Linked DNA regions of Homo sapiens. The protein of the gene in region 4 interacts with the protein of the main gene of each other region in a biochemical or structural test. Each region holds a gene or a part of one and is shown on either strand. Other genes may lie near its edges.

Region 1 (4,584 bases), on a different chromosome or scaffold from region 4:
TGGATCACTTGAGGTCAGGAGTTGGAGACCAGCCTGGCCAACATGGTGAAACTGTTTCTACTAAAAATACAAAAATTATCCAGGCATGGTGGTGGGCACCTGTAATCCCAGCTACTAGGGAGGCTGAGGCAAGAGAATTGCTTGAACGCAGGAGTTAGAGGGTATAGTGAGATGAGATCAGGCCAACTGCACTCCAGCCCGGGCGACAGAGCGAGACTCCGTCTCAAAAAAAAACAAAAAACAAAAAACAAATTGGGGGGAGAAAAAAAGCTACAGAATATACAGATTACAATTTCATTTAGGTTAAAAGAAAAAAATAGGTAAGTATAATAGATATGCACATTGATGTATATATTTTCATGTATGTATGCATGTATGTAGCATGTAATGAAACAGAAAAGAAACTGGAAGGACATCCAAACTGCAGAATGTAGTTTAATGGTTTAAGATGCAGGATCAGACAAAGGGAGAGCAAGCCTGGAATTAGAAACCAGAGAGAGATGGGACCACTGAACTACAGGCACACAAAGCATCAAGAACTCCAAGAAACAGAGACTGTCGGCACAAATTCCATCGTTTGAAATTACAGTACACAGTTCAAACATATATAGTTCTTAGAGATGATAATCATGAGAACTACAAGAATTTAGGTCAGATCAAAGAAACTAACTTTAAAATATCTTTGGCTGAGTAAAACAAAAAAATGTGAAGCACACCCAGACTACACCAAAATGTCTATGATGGTTACTTTTTAGTAATCAGATTATAAATAATAGTTTGGGGGTGAGGAGGGATTTCGGTATCTCTCCAATGTTTCATAAAATTATTGGCAACAAAAAATATTACACTTAAAAATTTTAATGCACATTTTATCATATCTCCACATTTTCTGTTAATGAATTGCTAGTAACTTCTACAGAACATCAAATACAGAATTCAAGAGCTGATTTTCTCCTTGCTTTCACTTTTTTTCTCAAAATTCCTCAAATAGATGGATACTTACAGGAAACTTAAAACCAGCCTATTCACAAAAAACTACATATTTTGTAGACATTTTATTTTATACTATAAAAAAAAATCTTATTTATTTTTTCTTGAGACAGAGTCTCGCTCTGTCGCCCAGGCTGGAGTGCAGTGGTGCAATCTCAGCTCACTGCAACCTCCACCTCCCAGGTTCAAGCAATTCTCCCGTCTCAGCCTCCCAAGTAGCTGGGATTACTGGCGCCCGGCACTACACCCGGCTGAAAATATCTTAAACATTTTAAAAGTTAACAAAATTTATGATAGCCCCCCTCCCCTCACAAACTCAAAAGAATACAGTCTGCAAAAATTAACTAACGTCTGTATAGACAAGATATCCGAAGTTGTTCTAATAAAGCTAAATCAGGGCCCTTGACAAGTTTTTAGAAGTAAAGCTACCTTACCCAACAAGCCTGAGTTCTGGCCAAATTCAAAAGGGCAAAATTTAATGTGAAATACAAAGGAAGGAAACCAGGAAGAAGTTTTTAACAGGGAGAGGATTACTTCATTTTGTCAAATAAATTATTGAAGTAATCTTTCCAAGGTAGAGTCTTTGCAGAGAAGCTAGTATACACTTATATTTACTGTATCAACCATCACTAGACCAAGGTGGTCGATGTGACACTAATAAATAACTATACCAAGTACGCTGAAATATTTTCTACAAAATTCAAGACTGGCATTAAACTCCTTAAGAAAATATTTCTCACTGGCAAGATCTGTTTTATAAATATAATTAGTTCTCCAAAGGTTTTTCTCTTTCTAGTTTATTCCATGTGCCCGGACTCCCTGTTCAAAACAAAAACGAATAAGCAAAAAAAACCAAAAACAAAACAAAACAAAAAAAACAAGTCAGTTCAAACATGACTGGGCAACCACAAACCTAATGGAAGGTTTCTGCCAGCTTTATTCTGGTCATATCTTGTCTGTAACATTAAACCTAAAGTTCTGGAAGACTTTTTTTTTTTTTTTTTTTGAGACAGAGTCTTGTTCTGTTGCCCAGGCTGGGTGCAGTGGCACCATCTCGGCTCACTGCAACCTACACCTCCCGGGTTAAGTGATTCTCCTGCCTCAGCCTCCGAGTAGCTGGAATTACAGGGGGATGACACCATGCCCAGCTAATTTTTTTATTTTTAGTAGAGACAAGGACAGGGCTTCACCATGTTGGCCAGGCTAGTCTTGAACTCCTGACCTCAAGTGATCCACCAGCCTCGGCCTCCCCAAAGTGCTGGGATTACAGGCGTGAGCCGCCACGCTGAGCCTCCTGAAGATTTAAGGAAAAAAAAAATCGTTCTAGAAATACTGGTCAGAAAGTATTTGAGATGGTCAGGGAAAAGAATAAGACTTAAAAAACAAAAGAAGGGCCAGGTGTGGCAGCTCACACCTGTAATCCCAACAATCTGGGAGGCCGAGGCGGCAGGATTGCTAAAGCCTTTGAGTTTGAGACCAGCCTGGACAACATAGTGAGATCTCGTCTCTAATAAAAATAAAAATTATAATAAAATAAAATAAGAAGTACTGGGACACATGGCTATTCAGCTGGTAACTTTGTCATGGATAAGCAAATAATACTCCTTAATCACACAAAAAAACATAATGTTGAGTGAAAGAAGCCAAACAGAAATGAAAGAGTACAGGCCGGGCGCAGTGGCTCACGCCTGTAATCCTAGCACTTTGGGAGGCCAAGGCAGGCAGATCACCTGAGGTTGGGAGTTCAAGACCAGCCTGACCAACATGGAGAAACCCCATCTCTACTAAAAACACAAAAAATTAGCCAAGTGTGGTGGTGCATGCCTGTAATCCCAGCTACTCGAGAGGCTGAGGCAGGAGAATCGCTTGAACCCGGGAGGTGGAGGTTGCCGTGAGCCAAGACTGTGCCATTGCACTCCAGCCTGGGCAACAAGAGTGAAACTTTGTCACAAAACAACAACAACAACAACAAAAGAATGAAAGAGTACAAACTCTACTGTTCCATTCATATAAGGCACAAAATTAGGCAAAATAAATCTATGGTGTAAAAAGTCAAGAGGTGGTTTCCTGTGAAGGGGGCGGCTCCTTGTTTCTTCGATCTGGGAGGTGGTTACAATAGCGTTCCTTTTGTGAAAATGTCAAGCTGTACACATGATTTGAGCACTTTTTCCATATGTATTTAGGCTAAATGTCAACAAAATAGTTTACATTTAGAAAATAAAAGTCCTAATATTGCTCTAGGTATTCTCCTAGAATCTCCTTGAACAACAGCCAGATGCTAATATCAGCTAACACTTCACAGCATCTCTCCTCTCTTTCCCTCTGCACAGTTCTTCAACCTGTCTCTCTCTACTACCCATTTGCTCCAGCAACACTCCTCAGGTCCTAGAGCAGTCCAAATTCATCCCTACTTCATGGGGCCTTTATCTGGCTGCATCTTCCATCTAAGATGTACTCCTTCCCCCTTCAAAGGGCGAGCTCCTTATCCTTGGACACCAGGTCTCCCTTCCACCCCACTGGTCTCTTCAGCACTTTGACTCCTTTACAGTACACTTCACAATTTGTAATTCTGTTTCTTTCTTTCCTCACTAGAAGGTAAGTGGTAATATTTAGAGAAGTAACTTACTCAACAACTAATCTTTTTACAACACTTGCTGTGTTAGGCAATGTGCTTTTAGATGCAAAGTAGGCAGTGTCTCTGCTCTCATGGAACTTAAAGTCACAAACACAACTAATAAGTGATAGAGCCAAGAGACACATCCAGATCTGACTCTTAAGGGCTTGTCCTCTTAGCCACTTAATTATACTGACACTCTAGCATTAGGACATGGGGGCTGGGGGGGCGAGGGGAAGGCAGGGAACAGCAATATACTTAATAACTGTTCATGTACTAATAGAACTAAGGCTTAGAGAGGTTCAGTAATCTACCCAAAGTAGCACAAATAGACATTTCAGAGGCTAAATACAATCATGACCAAAGGCACAGAGATGCTAAAGCAGTGTTCAAGGAACAAAAGAACCCAGTTGGCCTAGGTAGGGCAAAGGGGAAACACAGGCAATAAGGCTAGAGAAGTTTGTAAGAAACACTATGCCTTGGTAAAAACAAAACACAACGAAAAGGCTAGAAGAGTTTAATAAGGACAGTGTGGAGTCAGTCGCTCAATAACTTTTTACTGAGCACCACCTATGTTCCAGAAAGAGTCCTAAACTCTTGAGACACAAGGATGACCAAGTCGTCATAGAGATTACAGTCTATCTGGGGAGGCATACAACTAAAGAAAAATTATAATTCAGGAGGATATGTTACAGTGGGACCGAGCAGAGTGCTATGGGAACACAGAGATGACATCCAATTCAATGTGCAGAGTTCACAAAGAGCTTCTCAGCTAGTGATGTCCAGGCTGAGATAAGAGAGCTTAATAGGATGAGAGGGGCTTGCAAGTAAAGTCCAAAATGGCAGGGGAGTAACAAGAGAGGCCAGCTCAGGAGAGGCTATGTACTTACGAACCATATCAAGAACTTAGAACTTTACACTGAAAGCCTTTTAAGTCAGGTTCACCTATTAGAAAGCTCACTTAAACTGCAGTAGGAAAA
Region 2 (4,584 bases), on a different chromosome or scaffold from region 4:
GGCTTATACATTTCACAAAATAATCACCCAACGAATCCAATTTTTCTATTAAAAACTCAAAAGCATTTTTAAAAAAGTGAAACCACAATTTACTAAAACTTGAATGCTTATGAACAAAATTTGTATCTATCCAAGTTTTAGGAGATTCAGAAGGCAAAAATACCTGGAATATAATTACTCTGTGGCTCAATTCCTGCTGGGAAGTTAGTGTTTTCTGGAATGGAGTGAGTATAGTCATCCAGAGGCGGAAGTTCTGTTAGGATCTCGGTGTGTCGGGGCACTAATACTGGAGGCAAAACTGAAAAAGTTCAAGAAATCCAAGTTAATGGCAAAGAGCAAAGGGGAGTGGGGGAACCTTTTTTAAAGTTTTCAACAAGAAGAGAAGTTGTAGCTTAATTTTTAAAGCTAGGGTCCACCTACTCGATATATACTAGTTACTGAGAAAATGACAAATCTGATTATGGCTCTAACTTAGGTAGTCTATTATCCAAATTTCCAAGTTCTAATTTATCTCAAACTTTTGGGAACAATGTGATCCTGGTAATATTATATTACCATAAAAGTTCATAAATCCCCATTGGAAAACTTAACATTGTCTTTATCTGTAAAATCAGATATAGGAAATTTTCCAAAAACGCAGCTACTGCTATATTTTTTAATAGTTTCAGGTAGACAGCTAACTAAATGAAAAGTCTTGTTACAAGCTTTACTAAACGGTGTACATACAAATGATGTCATTAAAGTACTTCTAAAAGCACTCCAAGTGCAAAATGCTTGAAAATGTTACTGCAGCAGGGACATGTAGAAGCACATCAGCATAGCGCTGAGCAGACTGCCAATCTACAGGATTTCCTGGATATGCACTTTCATGCCAAATCATATGCTATTCCAAGAAACAGATATGTTTTCTCATTAAAAATTTTTAAAAATAAAAAAATTTTAATTACCACCAAATAATATGCACAATTTAAGGTAATTTATTAGAATTTACACTAAAATTTTCCTGGGTCACAAGAGTACTTAAATATACTGAAGTTCAGGCATTTAATTCAAAACCAAGAAAAAAACTTGCAATATTCCTACCTGGTGTCTCAACTCTCTGATAGTGGTAAGGGTTTACACATACTTCATCCTTTTTAAGATTAAAAGCATATTCGCAGTTTTCAATTGCCTTGAGTTCATGATGACTGTGAAGATCAGGCCAGCGCCATAATCGGCAATATATAACATGTGGCAATCCTTTTCGATGGGATACCTGGAGACGACCATCAAGAGACCTGTTGGGAAGCAAGGGGAAAAGAAAGGAGGGAACTTTAAAAAAAAAAAAAAAAAAGTGCAGTCAAATGGGCTAAATTAGTACAATAAAAGCATAAAGAAAAGAATGACAGCCATTTAGTTAGTTTTAGTGAGAATCAAGAACAAAAATGTACTATTTAATGGATCTGATAAAAGTATGCAGCAGCACTAGCAGATGTTTCTTATAAATATGTCACATAAATGACTCAAATGCCAATGAAAGGCTAACAACTTGGGAAAAACTGATTTTTTAAAAAAGAGAGTTTATGCAGTTATACTTGAAAAACTTTGTCAACTTCTATGTTTAGTAAATCAAACTCATTTTAGAGATGCTTCTAAGGATATTAATTCTGGAGGTGACTGAAGAGTCAGAAAAGGAACTAGTGTGAAGAATGATAAATACCAACAATGATGTGATAGTAACTTCCTCAGACTACTGCAACTCTTTACCCAGTTGTGACTGTTTTGAGAACTGAGGTATATTTATGTAGTTCACAAATAAATGTGGATGGTGATGAATATGATGAGATGAAATGAACAAATACCATATACGCAAAAAAGAAAATGAAGTGATTAAAAAAAGTAACATAAAAATGAGTTAACCTACTGTTAATTGTGATATAAGGGGTTCATTAAGTATGTATTTATTAGTATAAAGATGAGATTCTGATAACAAGAAATTTAGCAAAACTCATCATGTATCTACTTAAAAATTAGGCCAACAACAGATTATAATCTGATCTCAAGCTAAAATAAATATATAGTTATCAAAATTATTATTCTTTAGGGGATACAGTAATTTAAAGAAGATTCAAACTAGAATTGCATTGATTAAAACATCAGCTGAAACATTTAATATATTTTTTATACTGGCAAGCAGATATTTTAAATGCTATGCCTTATTTTACATTAAGGAAACATCCTAGGCAAAATTATACTAAGCAACCCCATATAGGTCTTTCAAAATATACCCCCCTCCCACAAGATCTCTAAGATTCGACAGAGGGCAGAATATTCACCTGGTTTGTTCAGAGAAGCTGTAAAGGCCTGTTGTATCCCACTGATCTATCGTATTTGGTGTACTCAGTCCCCAAATTTCAGAGCAAGTGCTGTGCATAAATTGAAAAACAAAAAATTGATGTGAACATGGAAGCATGGTTATTCAAAATACCATGATGTAAAACATGGAGAATGTACAGAATACTTCCTTCACCCAGAAAATATACAATTGCTTCACTTTTTCACAGGCATGTAGTGCTGGTTACTATATTTTCTATATGAAGGAAGCCAATAAAATGGAACATGTGACTCCAGATAAGTCATGATTATGTTTTTAAAATGTGAACACCAACGCCCTCTAGCTCAATGAATCATACCTATAATGCCCTTACCACTTTCCTGTATTCAAAAGATCTAAAACCTCTGCCATCAGCTTTACTAAGTGCTTCATTTTATAATCCAGTTTTTTAAAAAATTATCTAAAAACAGATGTCAACTGATTTTTAATATAGAAAAAAATCCCAATAAAAATAGACATGCATCCACAGTTAAGATTTTCAGGTTATCTGGTCATGATATTTTTAAGTTTTACTGAAAATTATTTTGTTCTCATCTCTAGAATAAATAAAGAAATAGACTTTGAAGTCATTCTAATTTAGTATACCACCTTAAAAATTTTCTCCCACATTTCTCTCCAGAATATGGGCAGCTCAGAGATAATTCTCCCTTTTTCCCTACCTTTATTTCATTTCATAGTAACTTCTGGTCAGTGAGAGAAGGGAAAGAGAGCTTAAAAGGAAGTTTTGGAATGGAACTTTGACAGCCAATGTCTCAAGTACTAAGTTGTACTTTTCTGAAAAGTCCATTTCTTACATATTACAAAATCATCAAAACTTCAATGCGGATAAAGGAGTATTTCAAAACATCTTTTGAAAATGAATCAAGCAATTGATTAAATTTCATATTTACACATTGTTAGTGAGCTTAACTGGATCAACAGTTCAAAGGGCAATGGTGAGAAGCGCTGGCTTCCTGTGGCCAGGCAACAGAACCACCTGGCATCCTTGGCTTTAGTACTACAGGTGCTGTCACATAGCTATCAGGCTGCAGGAACACATCATGCCCTGCTTTGGGGGCTACAGTGACCCGACAGTTCAAAACAAAACCTGTTCTGAAATTTTCCAGCATCTCATTCAAGTATTTTATAGATTCTCTTGCTTTTTCAGGCTGCAAAATTTACCAGACTATAAAAGCCAGAAAAAGCCAGGTAAATTAAGGCTTAGACCTTTCCCTTTTTTCCAAAGATATACTGATTTAAAAACCATGACATTAATGGTTTATTTAAAAGATATTTTCAAATATCTATTGGAAACATATAGCATGATGTAGTTTAAATCACAACAGAATCACCTCAATTCTACAGACTTCTGAGTCTATTAAAGAAATGGTATACAGGAGACTATTCTTTGAAAATAATTAACAAAAGTGTAGCACAAGAGGCTATTCTGCTCTGTATCAGAACATTTCACTCAAGTTATTCTGGGACTCACATGAGAACCAGAATCTAAAATAGAGCATGAAGTTTACATTGTACTTTATTTAATCCTTGAAAGGAATCAGAGAAGAATAAACAGTAATTGTTAAGAACTTGCAATCAATCTAGAGGCAGACAGATCTAGACCCCAACCCTAATTCGGCCACTTTCCAACTGCTGCCATAGGGTATATTTAAGCCTCAGTTCCATCATTATCATGCCTAACAAAATTGGAAGGTTTATTTTAAAACATTAAATTTGCTTCTAGCTAGTAAAATCATTGCCTGTTTACATAATAAAAAATATTTTTTAAAATAAGCCAATTTATAATAAAACATAGAGCCCTCTGTATCCAAGGGTTCCACATCCTTGGATTCAACCAACCGTGGATCAAAAAGTAGAAAAAATAAGTAAATTTTTAAAACTAAAAAATACAACAATTGAAAAATACAAAATTTAAAAACAATATGGTATAACAACTATTTACACAGCATTTACAATGTATTACATATTATGCATAATATAGAGATGACTTAAAGCAGGAGTCTCAGAGGCCACAGACTGATACCGGTCCACGGCCTGTTAGGAACCAGGACACACAGCAGAAGGTGAGCAGCAGGGGAGAGACCATTACCACCTGAGCTCTGCCTCCTGGAAGATCAGCAGTGGCATTAGATTCTCATAGGAGCAAGAACCCTATTGTGAACTGCACATGCGAGGGCTTTAGGCTGGGCACTCCTTAAGAGAATCTAACT
Region 3 (4,584 bases), on a different chromosome or scaffold from region 4:
ATGGGATATTAACAGTCTTTAAATTTTGTTCAAATATGCTAGGTAAAACATTTTTGTTTATTTTTCATTTACCTGATTATTAATAAGGTATAATTTTTTTGGTCTGTTACATTTATATTCTTCTGTTAATTGTGTTCATACCCTTTTCCCATTTTTCTGTGATTATCTTATTTTGAAGACTTTTATTTTTTATTTTCAAAATTTTTTAAATTTAAATTTTATTTTGAAATGGAGTTGTGCTCTTGTTGGCAGGCTGGAGTGCAATGGCGTGATCTTGGCTCACTGCACCCTTCACTCCTGGGTTCAGGTGATTCTCCTGCCTCAGCCTCCCGAGTAGCTGGGACTACAGGTGCCTGCCACGAAGCCTGACTAATTTTTTTAAAAAATATTTTTAGTAGAGACGGGGTTTCCCCATGTTGGCCAGGCTGGTCTCGAACTCCTGACCTCAGGTGATCCCCACCCGTCTCGGCCTCCCAGAGTTCTGGGATTACAGGTGTGAGCCACCATGCCGGCTTTATTTTGAAAACTTTTAAAAGATAAAATTCACATACTATAAAATTCACTATTTTAAAGTATATAATTCAGGGGCTTTAGTATTATTCACAAGTGTGTGCAGCCATCACCACTACTAATTCCAGAACATTTGCATTACCCCAAAAAGACACCCTGTACCCATTAGCAGTCATTCCCCATCCTATTTCCTCCAGCCAGTGACAACCATGATTCTACTTTCTGTCTCTATAGGTTTGCCTTTTGTGGACATTACATATAAATGGAATCATAAGATATATGGCTTTTTTTTTTTTTTTTTTTTTTTGAGGCAAGGGTCTCGCTGTGTCACCCAGGCTGGAGTGCAGTGGCCTGATCTCAACTCACTGCGACCTCAACCTCCTGGGTTCAAGCGACCCTCCTGCCATAGCCTCCTGAGTAGCTGGGATTTCAGGTGTGCACCACCATGCCCAGCTAATTTTTGTATTTTTAGTAGAGATGGGGTTTCGCCATGTTGGCCAGGCTGGTCTCAAACTCCTGACCTCAGATGATCCGCCTACCTCGGCCTCCCACAGTGTTGGGATTACAGGCATGAGCCACCATGCCTAGCTTTGATATGTGACTTTTTATTCTGGTTTGTTTCTTCTTTTCTGCCTTGCTTCCCTGTTCCTCTTCCCCTCCCTCCCCTCCCCCCCTCCCCATCCCCGTCTCCCTCTCCAGGGTTCTCGCTATGTTGCTCAGGCTGGTCTTGAACTCTTGGGCTTAAGTGATTCTCCCTCTTTGGCCTAAAGTTCTGGGATTATAGGTGTGAGCCACTATGCCTGGCCTGGCTTCTTTGTTTTAGCATGTTTTCAAGGTTCATTCATGCTGTAGCATGTATCAGTACTATATTCCTTTTAATGGCTGAATTCTGTTCCATTATATGGGTAGAATATATTTTGTTTTCCATTTATCAGTTGATATTTAGTTTGTCCCCATATTTTGGCTACTATTAATAATGTTGCTGTGAACATTCATGTGTGTTTTTGTATGGACATATGTTTTCAGCTCCCTTGGATATATACCTAGGAGTGGAATTGCTGGGTCTAGTATGCAACTATATGTTTTACTTTTTGAGGAACTGCCAAACTGTTTTCAGCAGTGGCCCTACCATCTTACATTCCTAGCAGCAACATATGAGGGTTTCAGTTTTTCCATATTCTGGTCAACACTTGTAATTATCCGTATTTTTGGTTATAATCCTAGTGGGTGTGAAGTGGTATCTCACTGTGGTTTCAACTTGCTCTTTCCTGATGGCTAATGATGCCAAGCATTTTTTTATGTACTTATTGGCCATTAGTACATCTTCTTTGGAAAAATGAAGTTCTTTAGATCTTTTGCCCATTTTTAAATTGGGTTAGTTGTCTTTTTATTGTTGAGTGGTAATATGTCTTTTATTCTGGGTATTAGACCTTTATCATATATATGATTTGCATGGATTTTCTCCTATCTTTGAGTTGTCTTTTCACTTTCTTGGTTTTATTCTTTGCAGCGTAAAGTTTTTAATTTTGGTAAATTAAGTTCATCTGTTTTTTCTTTTGTTGCTTGTAATTTATCTAAGAAACCATTACCTAATCCAGGGTCACAAAGGTTTACGCTTGTGGTTTAAGAGTTTTAAGGCTGGGCACAATGGCTCACACCTGTAATCTCAGCATTTTGGGAGGCCAAGGTGGGCAGATTGCTTGAGCTCAGGAGCTGGAGACCAGCCTGGGCAACATGGCGAAACCCCATCTCTACAAAAAATATAAAAAATTAGTAGGGCGTGGTGGCACATGCCTGTAGTCCCAGCTACTCAGGAGGCTGAGCAGGGAGAATCACTTGAGCCTGGGAGGTCAAGGCTGCAGTAAGCTGTGATCACGTGACTGTACTCCAGTCTGGGTGACAGAGTGAGACCCTGTCTCAAAAAAAAAAAAAAAAAAGTTTTATGGTTTTATTTATAGTTTTAGCTCTTACATTTAAATCTTTCATCATTTTGAATAATTTTTTATGGGTGTTTGTCCCAGACCATTAGTTGAAAAGACTGTCCTTTTCTCACTGAATTGTTCTGGTATCCTTGTCAAAAAATTGACTATAGATATAAGGGTTTTTTCTTGGCTCTCAATTTTATGCCATTGATCTATCTATATGTCCATATGCCATGGAATGTCTTTTTAAGAATTATTAATTTGTGGGATTTTTAAAAATATTGTCTTCATTTTCCTTGTCTGTTACATGTTATGAATATTTCCTCCAGTATGTCTTAACTTTTGTTTATGGCATCTTTTACTATACAGACGTTTTATGTTTTTATTAAGTCAAATTTATCCACCTCTTTTTTTTATGGTTTCTAGGTTAAAATCATGCTTTGCAATAGGGCATCCCAAGGCCAAAATTAGGGGAAAAAAATTCTCCCTTGAGGGGAAAATATTGAGAATTTTTTTTTTTTTTTTTTTGATGTGGAGCCTTGTCCTGTCATGCAGGCTGGAGTGCAGTGGTACTTCCGGCTCACTGCAACATCCGCCTCCCAGGTTCAAGCACTTCTCCTGCCTCAGCCTCCCGAGTAGTTGGGATTACATGCAACTGTCACCACACCCGGCTAATTTTTTATATTTTTAGTAGAGATAGGGTTTCATCATGTTGGCCAGGCTGGTCTTGAACTCCTGACCTCGTGATCTGCCCGGCTTGACCTCCCAAAGTGTTGGGATTACAGGAGTGAGCCACTGCACCTGGCCAAAAAAATTTTAATGTTAGCTCTTTAATTCATCTGCAAGTGATTTTTTTTTTTTTTTTTTGAGATGGCGTCTCACTCTGTTGCCCAGGCTGGAGTACAGTGGCGAGATCTAGGTTCACTGCAGCCTCCGCGTCCTGGGTTCAAGCGATTCTCCTGCCTCACCCTCCCGAGTAGCTGGGATTACAGGCATGCGCCACCACGCCTGGCTAATTTTTTTGTATTTTTAGTAGAAATGGCGTTCACCATGTTGGTCAGGCTGGTCTCGAACTCCTGAACTCAAATGATCCTCCTGCTTTGGCCTCCCAAAGTGTTGGGATTATAGGCATGAGCCACCATGCCCAGCCTGGAATTGATTTTAATGTATAGCATGAGGTTTGCTGTAGAATTTTATCTGTTTATGAAATGATCTATGTGAAGATAATTTTATTTCTTCATAGTTACAGTCACAAGAAAAATACTGTAAATGTGCAGCTTCTGCAAATACACATTTGTGAATGTGATATGTAGTCATGAAGTTTGGCTTTGAAAGTTTACATTATGCAAGTAACAGTATTTTTTCTGAGGATTGGCTGGCTGATAGTTTGTTTCACAATCTGAGCAGAATAAAATAATTTTTGGTCTCACAAATCAGTTTGACTAACTCAGGTTCTTACTCATTTTACTCATGTGAGAGAAACCAGATTCCATGTGGTGATTTTTTTTTTTTTTTTTTTTTTGAGATGGAGTACTGTTCTGTTTCCCAGGCTGGAGTGCAGTGGCGTGTTCTTGGCTCACTGCAACCTACACCTCCTGGGTTCAAGCAATTCTTCTGCCTCAGCCTCCTGAGTAGCTGGGACTACAGGTGTGTGCCACCATGCCTGGCTAATTTTTGTATTTTTAGTAGAGACGGGGTTTCACTATACTGGCCAGGCTGGTCTTGAACTCCTGACCTTGTGATCCGCCTGCCTTGGTCTCCCAAATTGCTGGGATTACAGGCATGAGCCACTGCGCTCAGCCCCATGTGGTGATTTTTTATGGCAGGAATAAATTTCTCAGTCGCTTATTGTATAAAATTGAATTTTATACAATTAATTATTATCTAATTAACTGCTTTTCTCCTAGGCGACCACCTTCAGTGACACTTCACTTGGGGGGACAGACTTTTTGTTTTGAGTTGCTATTGGGATAAATAAAAGATGCGATAGTTCATCTTTTATTTTGACAATAGAATGGCAAATGAAGGAATGCATTTACTTAGACTTTTACTTATACTGATAATTTTAACACTCAAGACTGATTAACTTTGTTTTACTCGGTTTCTTTTGTAATGGGTATACAGTAACTTTGAGGATGATTACACTGTTTTA
Region 4 (6,017 bases):
TTCTTTAAAAAATAAGTTTTTCTTGCTTATAGTTAATTCTAGAAAGGCAATACTAAAGGTATATATTTTTTTCAAAATGCTATTTTTTACTGCACTTGATAATTATCCTGACAGCTCTGATCTCTGTAATAGATTCACTCTTCAGCTCTGGGCAGAACCAGAGGCAGGGTTCACACCAAATTTGTAAATACCATATGTGGGTCTGGTGTCCAGGAACTTTTTTCTTTCTGTTAAAAAAAAGAAAAAAAAAAGAAAAAAAAAAAGAAGTAGAGGTGGAAGAAAGACAAGACTTAGAGGAACAAAAGAATGTTTTCTTTTGAGATACTCTTCTCAAAGAAATAGCAACAATTGTATAAACAGGAAAACCAGCCAGCTTTCATGATAAAAGGAAGGCGTGTCTCTTGCCCTGGTATGAGATTAACAGAAATACAGATGCATTTTTATTTTGATTGAAAGATGGTGAGAATGTAGAAATGCTTAGGACTAGATTTTTAATTTTTTAAAATAACTATTATCATTTATTATGAAATATTTGTTCAGTTGTTTTGAGTGGGTTTCTTGTTCCTTTTTTCATTTAAAACCTTCTTTGTTGACTGGCTCCAGGCTTGTTTGCCTAAATTCTTAGGTAGTTTACACAAGTTCTAGAATCTTTTAGAACTTTAACTCCATTGGAAGCAAACCTAACTAATCGGAGTTTGAGATCCTGGTTGGTTTCAATAGGTATTCTGGAATTCTGGCAGAACACCTAAAGATTTTTTTTTTTTTTAGAAGGTTTTAGATACATTATCTTACACAAACTGTGACCTAATGGCAATAATTACCTCAAATGTGGGCATTCATCCTGGTTTTAGCCTTTTTTGAAATCATGTAGCCAGCTTGATCTTGGAATTTAAAGACTATGAATTCTCTGTGGGCTGAAAATAATGATTACTTCATACCCCCGGTCATCGTTGCTTAAGTGAATTCTGAAAATAGCTCATCTTTACAACAAAAATTAAACCAAGGAAGAGATTATTCTTTGTGTGTTGTACTCAAATGCGATGTTCAAATGCACATGTTAAGTATATATGTTTTTAGCTACTGTAAAATGCTGTTAGCCTTCTAAGCTATCAAAACAGTCACATTTTAAATGAGTAAACTAAACAATTGACTGTGGATACTTAAGCATATTTCTGGCTACGTTTTATAGTTAAAGTGTTTTATAGTTTACATTTAGACTGGTACTTTTTAAAGAAAAGTTCTGTTTATAACTGACATCCGCAAACCCCAGTGAATGCCTCTTAGTTGGAGGTTGTGTCTCCCCCAAGGCAAGTGTGTTGTCCCAGACTCTTCTGTAGTCCAGCATGCGCACTTCCCTCTGGATTATTACTTTCCACGTGAACTCAAGAGAACATGAAAGGCAATCCAGATGGAGGGAAAAGGTGTGAGTCCGCAGCCCGGGCCAGATGCGAAGGTCTCATGCGTGTCGTCTAAACACTTGTCTTCAAGGCCTTCTCTCTGACATCTTGGAAGAGTCATTGAGAACAGATAACCTGGTTCATTGATTTTTGTCTTGATTTGAATATTTAACTTATTAATAGATCCACTGATTTCCAGGCACCAGGCAGTAGAAGAGACTGGGATTCAGGTGACCATGAAGGCACAGCTGCTACTTCTGGGCCGGGGGTGATATTTTGATCAGCGTTTTGTAGGGGAGGACCATATACCCCTATTCCCATGGTCGCTGGCTGGGTTTTCCATATATCTGCTGTCATTTATTCGTTTTCCCCTTAAAAGCAAAATCAATGTAAAAGGCTATGTTTACGTTTTACTCATTGTCCAGCTTAGACTCAAAGTCTAGTTCGGTGGGAGGGGGACCTTAGCATCCTCTCAGAGATGGTCAGGGCTGAGCAGGAGGAGGCAGAGACAGAGGGGCAGCTCAGCCTGGTCCATTGAGACCCACTCTAAACAGACATCATATTTGGAACAAGAAGATGCTTCGAGACAGGAATGGGCCCCACTGTCATGCAGAAACAGACTGGGGGAATGGCAGTTTCCCTGAGTCTTGGTTTCTTTTATGTTTTCTCTTGTGCCACCACCAAACTGCAGAGGACCTGCTGTGACCTAAAGGGCATTCCTTTAGCAGATAAGACCTTGAAAACTGCAAAACACCTGGGACCAGGGAGCTTTTAAAAAATACAAAAAAATACCACATTTGCTTTTTCCCTGTGAACTGTATTGACAGCGTGTTCTTAGGACAGTCTTTTGGTGGAAATGTTACTGTAAAATAGTTTTCATCTCACCCCTCCTAATCATACTCCCACTTTCCTGTTTGTGTGGTGGTGTTGCTGTTTTTTCCTTTACATGAATTAACCAAATGAATTTTGTGTCATTGTTTTTGGGGCTTATATTTTTAAAACATAGAAATTGCCTTTTGTTCATTTGAAAAGTAAGTATGTTGTATCTGAAAAAGGGCTCTGCCTCTGCTCTCCCTCGCTTCCTTGTAACCAATCTCCAAACGAATCTCTCCTGGCACCGCCCCCTTCCTTATATAGGGTCACTGTCCCCGGGGCCACCTCTGCCTCCACCCTGCTGTCACCACTGCCCTGGGCCAAGGCACCCAGGACTCCCAGAAAGCGCGAGAGCCAGCAAGAAGGCCCCACTCAGCCTTGAGACTGGTGGTCACACCTCCCTGTCAGAGTCGCCTGCTGGGCTGAAGGGGCAATGGATTGTCATTGTTGAAATTGTTTGGCTCAGGTTATAAGGAGGAACTTGGGAAGTAGAAAGTGACTTGACCATGTGCATCCTTGGTAGCTTCCTGTAACTAACAAATGGAACAGAGAGCACACCCCCGCCCCGCCCCACCCCAAGCAGATGTTCCCGTCAGCGCTGCCCTGAGTCAGTCGGTCCCCCGTTTCTGCTCTCCTCCCTTTTGTGTTCCTGCTCACTTCAAGCTTCTTCCATGGACTTTCCAGGGCACAGTCATCTCTAGCCCCCAAATCATCTCTTCATCCTCTGTGTGTGCATTTTTTTAACCAAATGAAATAGACAAGAAAGTCATACTTTGGGGCAGCAGAATTTCTAATTTAGTAGAATCACTGTATAGAGATAGATGTTGATATATATGTTTGTGTATATATATCAAACCAAATTGGATAGGAGAAGTATAGCTTTACAGATGAGGAGAAGGAGCTCTTTAGAGGTCGGAGTCAAGACTGGTGTCTTGGACGTGCATGGGCTGTGTCCCAGGCCACTCCGCACACATGGGGCTGAGGCGTGGCGCCGGGCCCTTGTCATCCACCTCACCACGGCAGAGCCAGCAGGCCCTGTAGGGTGCTGCTGCTGTCTCACTGGGTCCCAGCTTCAAGCGCATCAGTGGGTGACGGGGGCAACAAATCAGAGTGACTGGAAGTTTCCATCCCGTTTTGCTTTGACCACGTGTACTGAGCTGCAGCCTCTGATACTCTGTCACGTTTCCAAAAATGGTATCCATTAGGATAGAAAGAGAATGGATCTGCAGAAATGTTTACCTTTCAACTGCTCATGAATTCAGGACACTGGATAGAAAGACTCACTCCCCAAAATGAGAACAGGGAAGAGGAGACCCGGCGACACTAAGTCACCAGGTCCAAGGAACGTGGCTCCCTCCCCAGGGTCATCTCACCTAGATCTTTCTCTCCCAGGTCATCTCAGCTCAATCTCAATAACCCTATGAAAGCCCTGGTCTGTTGTGTTCCTTCACCGTACGGTTTCTGTAATAAAAAGTGTTAATCCATGTTAATCTGTGTGAAAATTATTGCGTGCAACAGTATTTTCTCGTGTACCTCTTTTTCCTATGTGAATTGTCCCTCTTTTTTATTTATAAATGTCTACTTTTGTTTTTTTAAAGACAAACCAATGTGTTGTAGACCTATATGTAACCTATTCCTTAGTCTCATATTATAGGTATGTTATAAGAATGGATATTTTACTTGGCTTTAGAATGTTTTACAAGAAAACTAATTCTTAACTGATCAAGTCCTTGCTACTAAAATGCTTGTGTTTTTCATCATGACGTCGTGTGCTTCTAAATTAATCATTTTCGTTGTAGAAAAATGGAGTGAATTTATATTAGTCTTGGAAACTAATAATAGCATTGTAAATTTATGAGATGATTTTAACAGAAAAAATATAGAAGAATATAGTTATTTTAATTGTAATATTACTAACTGTAGGGTGAGAAAAAGGGGGGGGGGTCCCATTGTGGTGAACTATGTTATAGCTTGTTACTCATAGTTTCTTTTTGATCATTTTTTCGGTCTCCGAGGTGAAATGACTTATTAATTAAAATTTGTAAACTCACATATGCATATTGTATATGTGTAGAAATGTAATCACACTTTGTCTTGGAATTACATTAAACTGTTTGAAATCACTGTACACCTGCCTGGCATGCTTATTTATCCTGGAACCAGACCTGTCATAAAAGCGAAGAGGTTATTGTTACAAGTAACATATTTGGGGTTTGTTTGTTTATTTAGATGGAGTTTTGCTCTTGTTGCCCAGGCTGGAGGGCAATGGCACGATCCTGGCTCACTGCAAACTCCGCCTCCCAGGTTCAAGTGATTCTCTTGCCTCAGCCTCCCGAGTAGCTGGGATTACAGGCATGCACCACCACGCCCGGCTAATTTTGTATTTTTAGTAGAGATGGGGTTTCTCCATTTTTTGGTCAGGCTGGTCTCGAACTCCTGACCTCAGATGATCCACCTGCCTCGGCCTCCCAAAGTGCTGGGATTACAGGCATGAGCCACTGCGCCGGGCCGAGATTATTTAATGGCTCTGGAAATGTGTAGAAGCCACCACTGCATTGAACATTTGCAGAGAGAGGTGGGGGGCCTTGAGATCACATTACTACCAATTCCCATGCAGTTGAGTGGGGCTAAGAGTCTCCCAGCTTCCTGCTGCCTCTTCCAAGCCATTTCAGCCCCATCTGCTCCCAATCTCTGTCCCTGACACCTAAGGTGTGGCTGTCACCTGCTGTCCTGGAAGCTTTCCAATATGCATCCCGGATCCTCCGCACCCAGGCCCTGCCGTCTCACCAGACACCATCAGCACCCGGAGCCTCGTGGCTTGCTGGCCCATTGCCAGGGCCCTTGCCACTGCGCACTTGAGCTACGTGCGCCACAGCCCCGTCCAGGCGCTGTGCCTGCAGCAGCTCCACCTCAGCAAGCCTAAGAAACGCCACATCCTGCTGGGACTGGGGTTTCCCAGCCTTCTGACACTCTTTTTGTCTTAAATTATGGTAAAATATACATAATATAAAATTACCATTTTAAGTGGACTACTAGCAACGTTAAATACGTTCACATTATTGTATAGGTGTCACCACCATTTCCAGAATTTTTTCATCATCCCAAACACAAGTTCTGTCCCCATTAACAACTCCCCATTTCTCCCTCCACCCGGTGCCTAGCAACCACCCTTCTACTCTGTCTCCATGAATCTGCCTATCCTAGATATTTCATGTAAGTAGAATCATATATTTGTCCTTTTGTGTCTGGTCTATCTCACTTAGCATAATGTCTTTAGGGTTCATTCATGTTATGGCATACATCAGAATTCCATTCCTTTTCATGGCTGAATAATATTCCATTGTATGGAGAGATCACATTTGGCTGATCCATTTATCTGTTGATGGACATTTGAGTTGCTTCCACCTTTTGGCTGTTGTGCAAATGCTGCTGTGAACATTGGTGTGCAAAAGATCTGTTCAAATCCCTGCTTTCAGTTCTTCCGGGAGTGTACCCACAAGGGAACTGCCGGATCCTACAGCAATTTTAAGATTAACCCTTTGGGGTCCCATCATTCTGTTCCCCACAGCAGCTGTACCGTTTCACATTCCCACCAGCAATGCACAAGGTGTCCTGTTTCTCCACCCAGCACTCATCCTGGCTTCCATTTCCAGGATTTTCAAGTCTGGGGAGCTCTGGGTTCCAAGCCCTCGGTCTTCTGTGCCTCTGGGTTGGCCAGACTAAACTCCACAGCCCTTCCCTCCACCC

The links. Proteins that work in one complex are often made in the same cells at the same time.
Region 1: of the proteins of HIPK2 (region 4) and SIAH1, one has a biochemical effect on the other in vitro, tested with the Homo sapiens proteins (4 studies listed by BioGRID, with this or other methods).
Region 2: the proteins of HIPK2 (region 4) and SMAD2 form a complex in vitro, tested with the Homo sapiens proteins (one study listed by BioGRID).
Region 3: the proteins of HIPK2 (region 4) and SUMO1 form a complex in vitro, tested with the Homo sapiens proteins (one study listed by BioGRID).

Annotation. Positions count from the first base shown.
Region 1 is NC_000016.10:48,375,414-48,379,997, forward strand, and holds part of SIAH1 (E3 ubiquitin-protein ligase SIAH1), read right to left. Parts: intron 1-4,584. UniProt on the Homo sapiens protein: E3 ubiquitin-protein ligase that mediates ubiquitination and subsequent proteasomal degradation of target proteins.
Region 2 is NC_000018.10:47,868,160-47,872,743, forward strand, and holds part of SMAD2 (mothers against decapentaplegic homolog 2), read right to left. Parts: intron 2,406-4,584; coding exon 2,316-2,405; intron 1,278-2,315; coding exon 1,084-1,277; intron 299-1,083; coding exon 164-298; intron 1-163. UniProt on the Homo sapiens protein: Receptor-regulated SMAD (R-SMAD) that is an intracellular signal transducer and transcriptional modulator activated by TGF-beta (transforming growth factor) and activin type 1 receptor kinases.
Region 3 is NC_000002.12:202,214,598-202,219,181, reverse strand, and holds part of SUMO1 (small ubiquitin-related modifier 1 isoform a precursor), read left to right. Parts: intron 1-4,584. UniProt on the Homo sapiens protein: Ubiquitin-like protein that can be covalently attached to proteins as a monomer or a lysine-linked polymer.
Region 4 is NC_000007.14:139,559,951-139,565,967, reverse strand, and holds the end of HIPK2 (homeodomain-interacting protein kinase 2), read left to right. Parts: 3' UTR 1-4,398; downstream 4,399-6,017.